Regions from separate parts of the Homo sapiens genome. Here region 1 is linked to region 2. Evidence: fine-mapped expression QTL. A gene starts in region 2. The other region holds a variant in brackets. All regions are shown on one strand. Distances are between the middles of the regions.

Evidence for each region. PIP is the estimated chance that this variant, and not a neighbour inherited with it, causes the effect.
Region 1: its variant is fine-mapped to the expression of CDC42SE1 in CD4 T cells (CEDAR, PIP 0.95).

What each region holds. Positions count from the first base shown.
Region 1 is chr1:151,105,564-151,113,894 of GRCh38, forward strand. It overlaps GABPB2 (GA binding protein transcription factor subunit beta 2), which reads left to right. Exons shown (of 9, transcript NM_144618.3): 7 at 1,474-1,659. It also overlaps the pseudogene RPS29P29. Among named protein-coding and RNA genes, the nearest start is that of SEMA6C, 37 kb to the right of the region's middle. The variant TTA/T (reference allele first, on the strand shown) is at 3,735.
Region 2 is chr1:151,056,027-151,064,357 of GRCh38, forward strand. CDC42SE1 (CDC42 small effector 1) reads right to left here and starts at 3,596. Exons shown (of 5, transcript NM_020239.4): 1 at 3,453-3,596. It overlaps MLLT11 (MLLT11 transcription factor 7 cofactor), which reads left to right and starts at 4,371. Exons shown (of 2, transcript NM_006818.4): 1 at 4,371-4,527. RefSeq lists silencers at 1,934-1,993, 2,004-2,053 and an enhancer at 3,917-4,508.

The DNA.
Region 1 (8,331 bases), 50 kb after region 2:
GAGTGCAGTGGCACAATCAGAGCTCACTGCAGCTTCAACTTCTGGGCTCAAGTGATCCTCCCACATCAGCCTCCTGAGTAGCTAGGACTAAAGGTGCATGCCACCACGCTCAATTAATTTTTCAAATTTGGGGGGATGGTCTCACTGCTCAGTCTGGTCTTCAACTCCCAGCCTCAAGCAGTCCTCCTGCCGTGGCCTCCCAAAGTGCTGGGATTATGGGCGTGAGCCACCATACCCAGCCAGCTATTATTCTTGATTTATCAGAGGAAAAAAGCCATCTAACATTTTTGTCTATCAAACTTCAATATTTTGACTACTTCACATATTATTCTGTGAATTCACTATTAAATATCCCTGTTTTCTTATAGAAATGATCTACTGTAATTTATGGTTATTTTAGATTTTTTTTTTTTTTGAGATGGAATCTCGCTCTTGTCACCCAGGCTGGAGTGCAATGGCGTGATCTTTGCTCACTGCAACCTCCGCCTCCCAGGTTCAAGCAATTCCCCTGCCTCAGCCTTCCAAGTAGCTGGGATTACAGGCGCCCACCAACACGCCCAGCTAATTTTTGTATTTTTAGTAGAGATGGGGTTTCACCATGTTGGCCAGGCTGGTCTCGAACCCCTGACCTCAGGTGATCTGCCCACCTCGGCCTCCCAAAGTGCTGGGATTACAGGCGTGAGCCACCGTGCCCAGCCATTTTAGACTTTCAAGATACTTTCTGAAAAAAAAAGGGTTCCAATATCAAATATGTTGGGGAAACAGCATATCTGGTTTTTTTGTTTGTTTTTTGAGACAGAGTCTCGCTCTGTCGCTCAGGCTGGAGTGCAGTGGCTCCATCTCGACTCACTGCAACCTCTGCCTCCCAGGCTCAAGCGATTCTCGTGCCTCAGCCTCCAAAGTAGCTGGAACTACAGGCACGTGCCACCATGCCTGACTAATTTTTGTACTTTTAGTAGAGACAGTGTTTTGCCATGTTGGCCAGGCTGGTCTCTAACTCCTGGCCTCAAGTGATTCGCCCATCTTGGCCTCCCAAAGTGCTGAGATTACAGGCGTGAGCCACTGTGCCCAGCCGAAACAGAGTATCTTATACTCTGTTGGAGAATCACACCCTGTTGGAAAATCACAATGTTTATTAGCCTATTGAAGTCTCTGATACTCCTACAAAACAAAAAAGTTTAAGCATGTTTAAACCAGAATTTTGAAAACGTATTTATACATAGAATCCATCTTTAGTGAAAGTTATTAATACCTCAGTGAACACATTTTACAAAATACTGTTCTAATGCATTCTGTTTTCTTTTCTCCTCTGACTTAGCATTGTTCACAAAACCTTTTGCGAACTGTTGAATCTCACTTTTTTTTTTCAAATGTTCCTCTCCCTGAATGTTGTCAGGTTCAAGGAGGTTGAAATTGCTATACTCCTATGTTTTTAAAAAGCTGAAATTTTAAATTTGCTTTTGTCATCTCTAGCCAATACAGAGGAAATTATAGAAGGAAATTCCGTTGACTCATCAATCCAGCAAGTAATGGGGAGTGGAGGCCAGAGGGTCATCACCATAGTGACTGATGGAGTCCCTCTGGGTAATATCCAAACTTCAATCCCTACTGGAGGCATTGGCCAGCCATTTATTGTAACTGTGCAAGATGGACAGCAAGGTGAGTTATCTCTTGTAGACAATTGTTTATTAAAAGATATTTTAGATACTCCATACTCACCTAAAAATGAGGCATTAAGACAAATAGTGGAAGTGGGAGATTGCCAGATGCAAGTTGGGGCAAAGAAGCTCTGAAAAAGAAAAAGAAACGGAACCAGACTGGCAAAAGCTAATTGCCTAATATGTATAAAATCTGTAGTAAAAACCAGTTGATCTGGTGGAAAAAATAACAAATAATATGAACCAATAGTTCACAGAAAAAAAATGTACTGATGGCTCTTTTTTTTTTTTTTTCTTCAGAAGGGATTCTCACTCTCTCACCCAGGCTGGAGTGCAGTGGTGCAATCTCAGCTCACTGCAGGCTCCGCCTCCTGGGTTCACGCACCCGGGTTCACCGCGCCCGGCCCTGATGGCTCTTAAAAATATGAAAATAGCTGGGTGAGGCGGCTCACGGCTGTAATCCCAGCACTTTGGGAGGCTGACGCAGGAGGATCACTTGAGAGCAGGAGTTCAAGACCAGCCTGGCCAAAATAGCAAAACCCCATCTCTACTAAAAATACAAAAATTAGCCAGGCATGGTGGCGCACGCCTATAGTCCCAGCTACTCAGGAGGCTGAAGTGGAGGATCACTTGAGCCCAGGAGGTTGAGGCTGTACTGAGCCGTGATTGTGCTACTGCACACCAGCCTGGATGACAGAGTGAGACTCTGTCTTTAAAAAAAAAAAGGAAAGAAAGAAAAAGAAAATATTTTCGACCTACTTCATTCATAACGAGAAGTGCAAATACTGTACTGACATACCATTATAACACTATGTTGTTAAAGGTATAGGGAAACAAGCACTCTTATAAATCACTTGTGAGAGTGCACATTAATGGATCCTCTAAAAAGGATATTGGTAATATCTGTAGGTATTAAAGATGTACATAAAGATGTACCTTTGGGTTTTTTTGTTTGCTTGTTTGTTTGAGATGGAGTTCCTCTTTGTTGCCCAGGCTGGAGCGCAGTGGCAGGATCTTGGCTCACTGCAACCTCCAGCTCCCTGGTTCAAGTAATTCTTGTGCCTCAGCCTCCTGAGTAGCTGGGACTATAGGCGCACACCAACACGCCCAGTTAATTTTTGTGTATTTTTAGTAGAGACAGGGTTTTACCATGTTAGCCAGGCTGGTCTTGAACTCCAGACCTCAAGTGATCCTCCCGCCTAAGCCTCCCAGAGTGCTGGGATTATAGGTATGAGTCATCACACCCAGTGATGTTGTGTACCTTTTGGTTAAACAGTTCTTTTTTCTTTTTTGTGTGTGTAACTGGGTCTTGTTCTGTCACCCAGGCTTGTGTGCGGTGGTGCAATCATGGGTCACTGCAGCCTCGACCTCCTGGGCTCAAGCTATCCTCCCGCCTCAGCCACCTGAGAAGCTGGGGCTACAGTTCCACGCCACCATGCCCAGCTATATTCAGACTGAGGCTATACATTAGTATACTGAGGCATTACATTAGTTGCTTCCAGGGAGGGCAATTGGGTACTAAGGATGAGTGGGAGGCTTTTCAATGTATATGCTTTTATAGTCTTGATGTTTTTAATCATTTAATGTATCAGTTATTCAAAAAAGACATAGTTAAAATTTTTTGAAAAGAGGAAGCCCATCATTACAACTCCATGCCTTAAAAATACTGGAGGTTGGCCAGGCACAATGGCTTACATATGTAATCCTGTAATCCTAGCACTTTGGGAGACCAAGGCAGGAGGATTGCTTGAGACCAAGAGTTCCAAATCAGCTGGGGCAACATAGCAAGACCCCCTCATCTCTACGCAATTTTTTTAAAAAATAGCCTGGTTGATGGCACGTGCTTATAGTCCCAACTACTCAGGAGGTTTTGGCAGGAGGATCAGTTGAGCCCAGGAGCTCAAGGTCGCAGTATGCTACCATAATCATGCCACTGCACTCCAGCCTGGGCAACAGAGCAAAACATTGTCTCTAAAAAATAAAAATGTATATTGGAGGTTGAAACGAAGGGTACTGGTATAATTTCCTTTCTTAATGTCACTAAAATTTTGACTTGGCTTAAATGATTGTGGGGAT[TTA/T]TATATATATATATATATACACACAAATATATATATATACACAAATATATATATATATATATATATTTTTTTTTTTGAGTCAGAATCTTGCTCTGTCACTCCAGGCTGGAGTGCAGTGGCACAATCTCGGCTCACTGCAACCTCCACCTCCTGGGTTCAAGCGATTCTCCTGCCTCAGCCTCCTGAGTAGCTGGGATTACAGGTGTGTGCCACCACGCCCGGCTAATTTTTTTGTATTTTTAGTAGAGACGGGGTTTCACTATGTTGGTCAGCCTGGTCTCGAACTCCTGACCTCGTGATCCACCCTCCTCGGCCTCCCAAAGTGCTGGAATTACAAGCGTGAGCCACCACACCCGGCCTATAGTTTTTTTTTGTTTGTTTTGTTTTTGTTTTTGAGATAGGATCTCCCTTTGTTGCCCAGGCTAGAATGCAGTGGCATGATTATGGCGCACTGCAGCCTCGACTTCCCAAGCAACCTTCTCACCTCAGCCTCCCAAGTAGCTGGGACTACAGGCATGCACCACCACACCTGGCTAATTTTTTTATTTTTTTAATTTTAGACAGGGACACAGTCTGTCACCCAGGCTGGAGTGCAGTGGCGTGATCTCGGCACACTGCAGTCTCCGCCTTCCGGGTTCAAGTGATTCTCCTGCCTCAGCCACCGGAGTAGATGGGATTACAATCATGTGCCACCATGCCCAGCTAATTTTTTTTTTTTTTTTTTTTTTTTTTTTTTTTTTTTTGCAGAGACAGGGTTTCGCCATGTTGGCCAGGCTGGTCACTAGCTCCTGAACTCAAGTGATCTGCCTGCCTTGGCCTCCCAAAGTGCTGGGATTACAGGTGTGAGTCACGACCCCTGGTCTTTTTTTATTTTTTGTACAGACTGGGTCTTACTATGTTGCCCGTGTTGGGATTTATAATTTTTTAATTATTTCAACTGATGGATCAGAAAGTATGGGAAGATAAGAATTAAACTTATTATAATCCAAACTTTGGTATCATAAATTCTAATTTATGCATTGCTGATATTTTTGTGAACATAGTTATCATTTTAAGTTTTTAGGGCTCATTGGGTAGGTGAGAGACTCTGCTTATAATGGAAATAAATAAATGAAAACTGAGTTGTTTTGGAGAAAAAGAATAGAATTGAGGTTTTACCTAAATAAACTATACTACTTTTTTATTTTTATTTTTTAAATTTATGTATTTATTTATTTAGAGGTGCAATCTCAGCTCCCTGCAACCTCAACCTCCTAGGCTCAAGCAGTCCTCCCACCTCAAGTCCCAAGTAGCTAGGACCACAGGTGCAAGCCACCACACCCAGCTAATTTTTTACTTTTTCGTAGAGACAAGGTCTTCCTATGTTACCCAGCCTGGCCTCAAACTCCTGGGCTCAAGCAGTCCTTCTACCTTGGCTTCCTAAAGTTCTAGGATTACAGGCATGAGCCACTGTGCTCAGCCTATACTACTTTTTACAAATATGTTTAAGGCCCAAAGAAGGAAAACAGATTTCATGAGTTATCTGCAGAAAAATTTAAATCCCAGACTAAACTTCCATTTCTACTCAACATATATCTAAGCTGCTTTCCACTGACATCAGTTGATGAGTTTATAAAGAAATACAAACCAATTTTTAAATCTGCCAAACCCAATGATTATGTAAATCTTCTGTTTTTTTGTTTTTGTTTTTAAATTTTTGTCCAGACATGGTAGCTCACACCTGTAATCCCAGCACTTTGGGAGGCTGAGGCGGGAGGAGCGCTTGAGGTCGGGATTTCAAGACCAGCTTGCCAACACGGTGAAACCCCATGTCTACTGAAAAAATACAAATATTAGCCAGATGTGGTGGCCCCAGCCTGGAGTGCAGTGGCACGATCATGACTTACGGCAGTCTTGATATTCAGGACCCAAGTGATCCTCCTGCTACAGCTCCCGAAATTTTTTTTTTCTTTTTTTTTTTTTGAGACGGAGTCTTGCTCTGTCACCCAGGCTAGAGTGCAGTGGCGCAATCTCGGCTCACTGCAACCTCCACCTCCTGGGTTCAAGCAATTCTCCAACCTCAGCCTCCTGAGTAGCTGGGATTACAAGGCGCCCACCACCGCCCCCCACTAATTTTTTTTTTCTTTTTTTTCTTTTTTTTTGAGACAGAGTCTCGCTCTGTCACCCAGGCTGGAGTGCAGTGGCGTGATCTCGGCTCACCGCAAGCTCCACCTCCCGGGTTGACGCCATTCTCCTGCCTCAGCCTCCTGAGTAGCTGGGACTACAGGCGCCTGCCACCACGCCCGGCTAATTTTTTTTGTATTTTTAGTAGAGATGGGGTTTCACTGTGGTCTCGATCTCCTGACCTCGTGATCCACCCGCCTCGGCCTCCCAAAGTGCTGGGATTACAGGTGTGAGCCACCGCGCCCGGCCTAATTTTTGTATTTTTAGTAGAGACAGGATTTCACCATGGTCTCGAACTCCTGACCTTGTGACCCACCTGCCTCGGCCTCCCAAAGTGCTGGGATTACAGGCATGAGCCACTGTGCCCGGCCTTTAATTTTCATATATGAAGAGCTAACATGGTTTTTAATTGGGTGCATGCCTTGGATAATCCATTCAAGAGAGATCACTTAGTCCAATTTAATGAAACCTATATCCTGTGGCTGGGCGCAGTGGCTCACACCTGTAATCCCAGCACTTTGGGAGGCCGAGGCGGGCGGATCACGAGGTCAGGAGATCGAGACCATCCTGGCTAACATGGTGAAACCCTGACTCTACTAAAAATACCAAAAATTAGCTGGGCGTGGTGGTGGGCGCCCGTAGTCCCAGCTACTCGGGAGGCTGAGGCAGGAGAATGGCATGAACCCGGGAGGTGGAGGTTGCAGTGAGCCGAAATCACGCCACTGCACTCCAGCCTGGGCGACAGAGCGAGACTCCATCTCAAAAAAAAAAAAAAAAAAAAAAAACCTATATCCTTCATGTACTGATGGAAAGGCTGACGGTATATATTGAGGCCATATTTCCGGATCAGACTGTGCTGATTTTTTCTTTTTGTTGTTGTTTTTGTTTTTGTTTTTTGAGATAGAGTCTCACTCTGTCGCCCAGGCTGGAGTGCAATGGTGTGGTCTCAGCTCACTGCAACCTCTGCCTCCCGGATTCAAGCGATTCTCCTGCCTCAGCCTCCTGAGTAGCTAGAATTATAGGCGTTTCCCACCATGCCCGGCTAATTTTTTGTATTTTTAGTAGAGACAGGGTTTCACCATGTTGGTCAGGCGGGTCTTGAACTCCTGACCTCATGATCTGCCGGCCTCGGCCTCCCAAAGCACTGGCATTACAGGTGTGAGCCACCGCACCTGGCCGACTATGCTGGTTTGAGCAGACATGACAAGAGCAAGAACCCTGGCCAAATTTTTGTGGGTGGCTCCAGTAGAGCTGCTGGTAACCCATCTTGCTCTCAAGAGTGCAACGAGGTAAAAGGAAGGAGCTCCCGAATTTTTTTTTTCTTTTTGAGACAGAGTCTCGTTCTATCACCAGGCTAGAGTGCAGTGGCATGGTCTCGGCTCACTGCAATCTCTGCCTCCCAGGTTCAAGTGATTCCCCTGCCTCAGCCTCCTGAGTAGCTGGGACTACAGGTGTGCACCACCACGCCTGGCTAATTTTTTTTTTTTTTGTATTTTAGTAGAGACAGGGTTTCACCATGTTGGCCAGGATGGTCTTGATCTCTTGACCTAGTGATGTGCCCACCTCAGCCCCTAAAGTGTTGGGATTATAAGCATGAGCTACTGCGCCTAGCCCCTCAATTTTTTTTTTTAATAGAAATGAGGTCTTGCTAAGCTTCCCAGGCTGGTCTCAGACTCCTAGACTCAAGCTTTCCTCCCACTTTGGCCTCCCAAAATGCTGTGATTGGCCGGGTGCGGTGGCTCACACCTGTAATCCCAGCACTTTGGGAGGCCGAGGTGGACAGATCATGAGGTCAGGAGATCGAGACCATCCTGGCTAACGCGGTGAAACCCTGTCTCTACTAAAAATACAAAAAAATTAGCCAGGCCTGGTGGCGTGCACCTGTAGTCCCTGCTACTCCGGAGGCTGAGTCAGGAGAATGGGGTGAACCCCGGAGGCGGAGCTTGCAGTGAGCAGAGATCGTGCCACTGCACTCCAACCTGGGCAACAGAGGGAGACTCCAACTGCAAAAAAAAAAAAAAAAAAAATGCTGTGATTACAGGCATGAGCTACCGTGTCTGGCCAAATCTTCTGTTTTAAAATAATCATAATATATCCTAAAACGTAAATATAATTTTTAACTTTTTATTTTTAGATCATTAAAGATTCAGTACAGTTCTAAGAAATAATACAGAGAAATCTATTGCTGGGATTACAGGCACATGCCACCATGCCCACCTAATTTTTTGTATTTTTGGTAGAGACAGGGTTTTGCCATGTTGGCCAAGCTGGTCTCGAACTCCTGACCTCAGGTGATCCGCCCACCTTGGCCTCCCAAAGTGCTGGGATTACAGGCATGAGCCACCGTGCCCATCCTCTACTTTGTCATTTCAATAATGTTATATAAGTGGAATCATACAGTATACATGATTTTGAGATTGGCTTTTTTCCTT
Region 2 (8,331 bases):
GAGAAATCTCCCCCTCCCCCAATCCTTGAGAAACCTCCTGATGAGCCTATATCTTCCCAGTCCTCCCTGAGAGGCCCTAGACCTGTACACCAACACTCATTCCCAAACACTATGAACCTCAGTTTGACTCTAAAAAAAAGGAACAGAACCAAAAGGACACCAAGGGGTTAAGGAGCAGTGGCTGGTGGTACCAAGGGAGAGGAAGGGGGCTAGAAGCACTTAGAGTTAAGAGGATGGGCGAGGACCAAAGGATAGTGGCAGAAATTAGCAAAGTTTGGGGTGATACAAGCTCCAGCTCCCTTCTCTCTGAGTTTAGGGCAGAAGGGGAGGGGCATTTAAGTGACTCTGAAGAGGAAATAGTGGTTTTTTGTTCTCACAAACAAGGTCTCCACCCTGTCCCTGCCTTTTTTCTTACCTTGCCCTGAACGCCTAGAGTTTCTTTAAGAACAGGAGAGCCCTGGACCACTGAGGTCCTAGGAGACTAACTGGCAGGTTGGCCCTCAGGAAAGACTTTCTACAATAAGGAATTTCTTCCCTCTCTGTTTGCTGCCCTATTCCTCCTGATTTCCCTCCAGTGAAATCCAATCCCTCCCAGAAGCCAGTCAGCAGCAGTTCCTTTATTACCTGACCTTGAGATCCTTCCTGAAGGCTGTGTACATTCTGTTTATCTGTGTCCTGTATCACTGCACTCCTGTGTGTACACCTCTGTTTGCACATGCGTGGCATGGCCATATCTCCACGTGTGTCCAGTACAGATCATCTGTGTACAGGTTGTGGGTACATGTGCCAGGTATCTTCTGTCCCATGAGGAATATTTTCCCCACCGTCCACATGTCCTATCTGCCACTCTGCTCTGCCTCACACCCTATAGGGCCCAGGCTCCCCTCCAGCTGTGACCTGTTCTCCCCTCCCTCCTCACCAATTCTATCCTCAAGCTTCATCAGTGAACCAGACATAAGGAACTTTCCAATAGTACTAGTGTCCAAGGAAGAACTTCCTCCCTTCTCACTACTGCCAGCCAGGGTAGGACACATCTGGGTTTCTTCTTAGACTCACTTGCATTTCCCCAGTCCTATAGTACAGACAACCTCAAAGATTCCAAAAAGGGCAGTTTCATAAATATGACACTTTAACATGAACAGGAATCTCCCTTTCTTGCAGGCCGGGAACCCTGATGCTTTGGCACCCTAGACTGATTTAAAAACAAGAGATAGGCCGGGCGTGGTGGCTCACGCCTGTAATCCCAGCACTTTGGGAGGCCAAGGTGGGCGGATCACCTGAGGTCAGGAGTTCCAGACCAGCCTGGCCAACATGGTGAAACCCCATCTCTGCTAAAAATACAAAAGATTAGCTGGGCGTGGTGGCGGATGCCTGTAATCCCAGCTACTTGGGAGGCTGAGGCAGGAGAATCGCTTGAACCGGAGATTGCAGTGAGCCGAGATCGCCACTGCACTCCAGCCTGGGCAACAAGAGCGAAACTCCGCCTCAAAAAAAACACACACAAAAAAACGAGATAGCAGGGTGTGGTAGCATGTGCCTGTCATCCCAGCTACTGGGGAGGCTGAGGCAGGAGGATCACTTGAGCCCAAGAGTTGCGGCTACAGTGAGCCATGTTTGCACCCCTGCACTCCAGCCTGGGTGACAGGACAAGACCCTGTCTCAAATACAAAACACACACACACACACACACACACACACACACACACACACACAGAGGTTTTTTTTTTTTTTAACAGCCTTGAGATGAGATCACACAAACACTCAAATGTAGCTTCTAGGGGAGGGGAGAACCCAGGAGGCTGGGCTTTCTCTTCTCTTCTCACCACTGGAAGGGAGGAGTAACCAGAAGGAGCGGAAGCTAAAACACGCTGTCCAGAGAGGGGAGCTGTGGTCAGTGGGACGTCAGTGAGTCAGTCATAGGGTTTGTCCTGATGGTGGTGGTGGCAGGTGGTAAGGGTTGGGGAAAAATGAAGAATTAGAGGAAACCCCCAACACCAGCAGGCAGGCTGTACTGTGACTGGACTCTCCCTCAACATCCCCCACTCTGCTCAAAGCTGAGGGACAGAGGTGGATAGTGCTGGGAGGGAAGAGAAGAGAGGGGGAGGAGAAGGAGAGAGGGAAAGGGGCAGTGGAGAGAACAAGGCCATTTCTGTTTCTTTTCCAGGGACCTGACCAGAGCTGGGTGGAGGGAAAGCGTGTGTGTGGGACTTGGCATGAAATGACCAATGATGACGAGAAGTGACCAGGAAATTCCATTCCCTAGGACATTAGGGTCTCTGAAACTTGAGGGTGGGGTCAGAGTGTGAAGAAGACAGGTCAGGGTGAATGTGATGGTAGCGCAGGGCAGTGGGGGATGGGAACAAAGCCAGAAAAGGAAGTAAGAGCCACTGGCGGCCACTCTTCTTTAAAGCAGCCAGAAGAGAGTGGGTTGAGGAAAAATGAAGTCCTGAGCTGGTCAGCCCAGGCGGAAGAGCCACCCGAATCCAACCCCACAGTGAATAGGGAAGGGGCTGAGAAAACAACAGGAGGGATGAGGATTAGACCTCATAAGGCCACGTCCTGAGAGCCAAGTGGTGCTCAGAACTCGACCTCTCTGAGTTCCAAATGGCAAGAGTGAAATATGGAACCGGGAAAGCCACCCCCCGCCCCCACCAAGATCATACTAGGACTTGAGGGTCTCAGAGCTGTTGGGAGGTGAGCAGAAGGGATGGGAAAGAGGTGCCAGGGAGGAAGGATGTACAGGCTAGTTCTCTGGTCCTGTTCGGGCCCCAAACCGGTTCTCCCGGTCCCACCGCCTCTGGCCCTAAGGCCTCCAACCCGCGGCCTGACAAGCCCTCACATGAAGCAGCTGGAGAGAAAGAAAGAATCGAGAGAATGGCATGGGCAATTCTGGCTAGAAGCCCGGGGCAGCAGCTGGTCCCTGTGTGGAGACCCCGAGACATGGAGGGCTGCTGAGGGACTCTGGAGAAGCGGTGTGGACTCCATATTTCAGCCAAGTGACAGGCCCAACACCAACCTTCCCTTCCCCAGGAAAGGTCTTCTGGGGGCTTAAGAGGAAAGAGGGCTAGGCCCTAAGCCTCCCCTCCCCAAATATATTCAATCACACAGATTCCGTATCTGTCTCCCCCCACTACACAACTCTACCTAGAAGTTCTCTGCTGTTCTCAACCCTTAACCGGACTGGGACCTCTCTGGGAATCTTTCGGACCCTCTCCCTCCCACCTCCCCCAACATTCCAGTTCCTTCTTTTCCTTCTACTCTTCAGCGGCCTCAGCCTGCGCACCCCAGGAGCGTGGATGACTACGGCCACCCCGGGCGCGCACCCCTTTCCCACCACCCCAGCATCTCTGCAGCCCAGGACACCCGCCTCCCCCACACCCCGCATCCGGTGTGTCTCCGCCTGGCCCGGCCGGCGCGGCAGGCGGGCCAGGGGACCAACTGCACGGCCTCACCTGCTCTTCTCCACCATCCAGACGTTCAGCTACAGCTGGTGGGGGTGAGGGACTCTGCTCCGTGGCCGCCAGTGTGGGCTTCCCGGGCTAGCTCTGCGGCGAGGTGGGGGAGCCGAGTACGAGCCGGCAGAGGTGGGGCCGGCTGAGGGCGGAAGCGGCGGCGACGCGATTACGAAACCCGTCCGGCTCGGAGCCCGGCGCACTGCTCCCCTCTGGACTGCGGAGGCACTGCACTGCGCGGGACGTGGGAGGGTGCCTCTGCAGCCCCTCAAGGCCGCCGCCCCTGCGGGGAGAACTGGAGAATGCGGACACCTAGATGAGGCCCTGGCACCCAAGCTGGGGCCCCCGGAATCTCACGTTCCCTTTACTCGCCAGGCATTTCGGGGCAAAACGAAGCGGAGCCCCCCAAACCCCCAGACCTAACCAAGTTCAGAGATTCGCAGAAGCACGCCCCCCACCCCAAATTTATTGTGCTCTACCCAAAATGGAATAGGACTAGGTTTATTTACCCATTGTGAGGGTAGAGAGGCGAGTCTGGAGGAGCAGGGATTGGGAGAAGGGGTGGAAAAATACTCTGATTCTTAAAAATACTTTGTAACCTAAAGTCCTTAAATTGTGGAAGAAAGGAATACTCCTCCTTTCCATTGTAGTCTAGAGTTAAGATTTCAAATCCATAAATTAGAGGACCTAAAATTAGAGGGCAATTAACTGCTCATTCATTGGGCCCCCAGTCAGCACGGGGGTGCTGGAAGAGATCGGGAATAATAGCGCAGACCAATGAGCCTAGGGAGATGCTTTCATCGTCTCTCCTTCCCTCAAGTGTTCTGGAACCTATCATTTGAATTAGCCGAGTCAGGCAGGAGGGGGCGGGGAATCCTTCCGCCCTTCTTAGGAGGGGCTGCATTGCAGGGGGAGAGTGAACTGACAGACTCAGTCACTGAAGAGGGAAAAGGAGTGAGAAGACAAAGCCGTCAAAGCCCCAACAGCTTTGTATTTCTCCAGCCCGGCGCAGACCCCGGAGCTCCCGAGGCACTCCCTCCATCTTTGGAACACGCCAGTAATTGATTGATAACAGGTAAACCAAACTGAGGGAGGGGGCAGGGGGCTGCAAAGATAGAAGAGCGGCTGCTTATGGTTAGATTGAAAGACCCCACATGAGGTGGGGGACAGCTGAAGAGGAGAGAAGGGGGCGCTATGAACAATGGGTAGTTATTTCTTCACAGCATCCATGCCTTGTTACCTTATACAGACCATTAATCTCTAACAATTTACTTGTAGTTATTTCTCAGCACCTACCTCATTTCAAGTATCCTTTTCTGTAATTTATTGTCCTGTGTATTTAATATCTTCAGTCTACTTATCTTCCTTTTCAAACCATAATTTGTTTTACCAGCTGTTTAATTTTTAGTCCTACTGTATCTCTCTGTCCTCTACTTCCCTATACTTGCAATTTTTTTCTGTAGTGTTCTATGTTTCTCTGTAGGAGGGAGTTTGGGAGGGGGTTATATGGGATAATGTTGGGTGTAATCCTGACCTTTCTTTGGATAATCTCTTTCATTCCACCTCGAATCTTTGCTCCAAAGAAAGAGGCAGCCTAGGGTAGGAAAGGTGGGGGCCTCTGTGTTGGAGAACTGCCTGATTCCATAGTGAAATCAGTATAGCCCACAGGAGCTAGGTATGGGGACAGATTCTGGAAAAGAATGATTTGCAGCTCAGTGGAATTGGTGGAGGAATGCTAGTAGGAAAATCCAAGCTCTGACTGAGGCACACATTATGAGATGTCAGAGAGGTTCTGCTCCCCTCTACCACCACCACCACCTTGTCCTTCCCCCTTCCCCATGGTGGCAGCATGACACAGCAAGGCCCTGTTGAGTAGGCCTTGGATGCCCACAAAGGGTCTGGACAAAGGATATTTGGGCGTGTCTGTGTGGCTCCGAGAGTGTATCTTTCTAATCTATACATTTGCTAATCATGTATCTCTAAGAACAGAGTGATAATTAGATATTGCCTTTGCCTAAAATACCCGGATAATTTAAAGTGAAGGATAGTGGGAAGCATTTATTGAACATATATTGTGGTACAAGGCACTGTCAAAACCCTTTAAGTAAATGATACCATTTAAGATAATGAAAGATGTAAAGATAGATGAAGTAGGGCTGGAGAGCATTTGTGGAGGGGAAGGGGAAGCTAGCCAAAAAAGGATCTTTTGCGAAATTTGGAGTATTTGATAATTAAATCCATACTATATTAAATCAAAAATGTCATTACTACTTACATTAGTGAATAGCATTTTAACTTCAATTTTCTGTGTAGTATTACTTTATGTTCTTGACTTGATTTTAATGCCACGTATGTTTGCATGCATGTCTTTCTTGAATGTATTTGGTACCCTGTGTACATGTCTCTGGGTCAATGACATAGAGATTTTAGGCCTTTTGAGTTAATATTTCATAAAATTTGCTTTAGCTTTTTAAATTGCAAGATAGCTCTACCAAACACTCAGGGACTGTTTGAGCAGTTTTTTATACATACTCTGGTTGTAAGAAAAGGAGTCAGTTTGTCGAAGAGCTTTTTTTTTTTTCTCAGATTCTAGCTTGCTCTACTGCCCTTTGCTTTTCCCCATTCAGATCACAATTACAGGAACAATCACCTAAACCACGGAAAATCTATTCTTCAGCAACTAAAAATTCTTTTAAGTTTTGGGAATACTGGTATAGGGTTATATAAAGCTGTTGGCAACTATCCATGTACAACACAAAAAGGGATCAGATTGGGAATTATGAGATCTGGATTCTATACAAACTGGCTGGAAGTCTTCCCAAGTCATTAATTTCTAAGATGTCTTCTAGTTTTAAAATTCTATGATTTTTTCCCCCCATGATTCTATTTTTTTTTTTTTTTTAAGATGGAGTCTCGCTCTGTTGCCCAGGCTGGAGTGCAGTGGTGCAATCTTGGCTCACTGCAACCTCCACCTCCCCAGTTCAAGCGATTCTCCTGCCTCAGCCTCCCGAGTAGCTGGGATTATAGGCGCCTGCCACCACACCTGGCTAATTTTTGTATTTTTAGTAAAGACGGGGTTTCACTATCTTGGCCAGGCTGGTCTCGAATTCCTGACCTTGTGATCCACCTGCCTCGGCCTCCCAAAGTGCTGAGATTACAGGCGTGTGCCACCGCGCCTGGCCCCATGATTCTATTTTTTAAAGAGCCTATAATGTGGCCTGCATTATACTAAGCTCATTCTGGAGAAGACTTGTCAGGTAGGATAGAGAAAAGAACCCAGCTAGCTGTGAAAATAACTGGTAACAGTAAGAATCCCTGTAGCCACAAGTCCATAACAGTATTGACTCCTAGGTATGCTTCTTAGAATCTCTATAGTCCCAGATTTAAGCAGTGGGTGGTTGGTTAATGGATACAACCATTTTTTGTAGCTCTCTTTCTGCACACGTCTCTGCAAAGTACTATGGAGATTATCAGAGTTGAGTATCATAGGATGATGACCTCACCTTTCCAACATGCTCCCCGACCCTGCTGCAATCCCGGCATCACCCTCCTTCTAAGCAGCTTCTCTGCTGAGTAATGCTCAGTTCCCAGGGTTTATTTTGGAACTTAAACTAAGAAAAAGAACAACTCAGAATTCACTTTCAACATTAAAAACATCCTAGCCTACCCACTCACCATTCCTGAAGCCCCCACACTCTCACACATCACTGTGTTCTAGATTAACACTTTCTTTTTCTGCCTTAGTACAGTCATTTCACATTATACTGGAGCATTTTGGAACCTATTTAAGGCCATTATTTAGGAGTCTCTGGCCTGGTGAGACCCAATAGGGTGTGTTGGAGAAAGGCCTTTTGAAACTTGGGGTTCTGTTTTTGGAGGTGATAGAATGTTCTTTCTGCTCCTTTGGGAACATTTCAACTAATGCTTCTTTTTTTAATTTTTATTTATTTATTATTATTATTATTGAGACGGAGTCTTGCTCTTTCGCCCAGGCTGGAGTGCAGTGGCGCTATCTCAGCTCACCGCAAGCTCCGCCTCCCAGGTTCGCGCCATTCTCCTGCCTCAGCCTCCCAAGTAGCTGGGACTACAGGCGCCCACCACCGCGCCCGGCTTAATATTTGTACTTTTAGTAGAGACGGGGTTTCACCGTGTTAGCCAGGATGGTCTCGATCTCCTGACCTCGTGATCCACCCGCCTCGGCCTCCCAAAGTGCTGGGATTACAGGCGTAAGCCACCACGCCCGACCACAACTAATGCTTCTTGACCCTTGGCTAGTAAGTAGCAGGGTGGAGGCTGTAGGCAGCTCTAATAGTCCTAAAATATCAGGCAGGGCTTGGGTAGAATGAGTAGAGAAAGTGATAGATCCATTAACGCATGGAAGAGTATCTGATTCTGTTAAAATACCTTCTTCCAATCTGAACTTTACTTTAAATCCAAATGGATTTCCAATCCATTTGCTCTCATTATCATCAGTATACTCGAGCACTGGGATCAGAGAAAAGAGATCCCTGTTACAGCATAGGAAAGTTATTTATTTATTTATTTATTATTACTTTTTTTGAGATGGAGTTTCGCTCTTGTTGCCCAGGCTGGAGTGCAATGGCGAGATCTCGGCTCACTGCAACCTCCACCTCCCAGGTTCAAGCAATTTTCCTGCCTCAGCCTCCCAAATAACTGGGATTACAGGCATGCGCCACCTCGCCTGGCTAATTTTGTATTTTTAATAGAGACAGGATTTCACCATGTTGGTTGGGCTGGTCTTGAACTCCTCACCTCCTGATCTGCCTGCCTCGGCCTCCCAAAGTGCTGGGATTATAGGCGTAAGCCACTGCACCTGGCTAGGAAAGTTCTTTTAGCACCTAGGTTTTGTTCTGAAGGA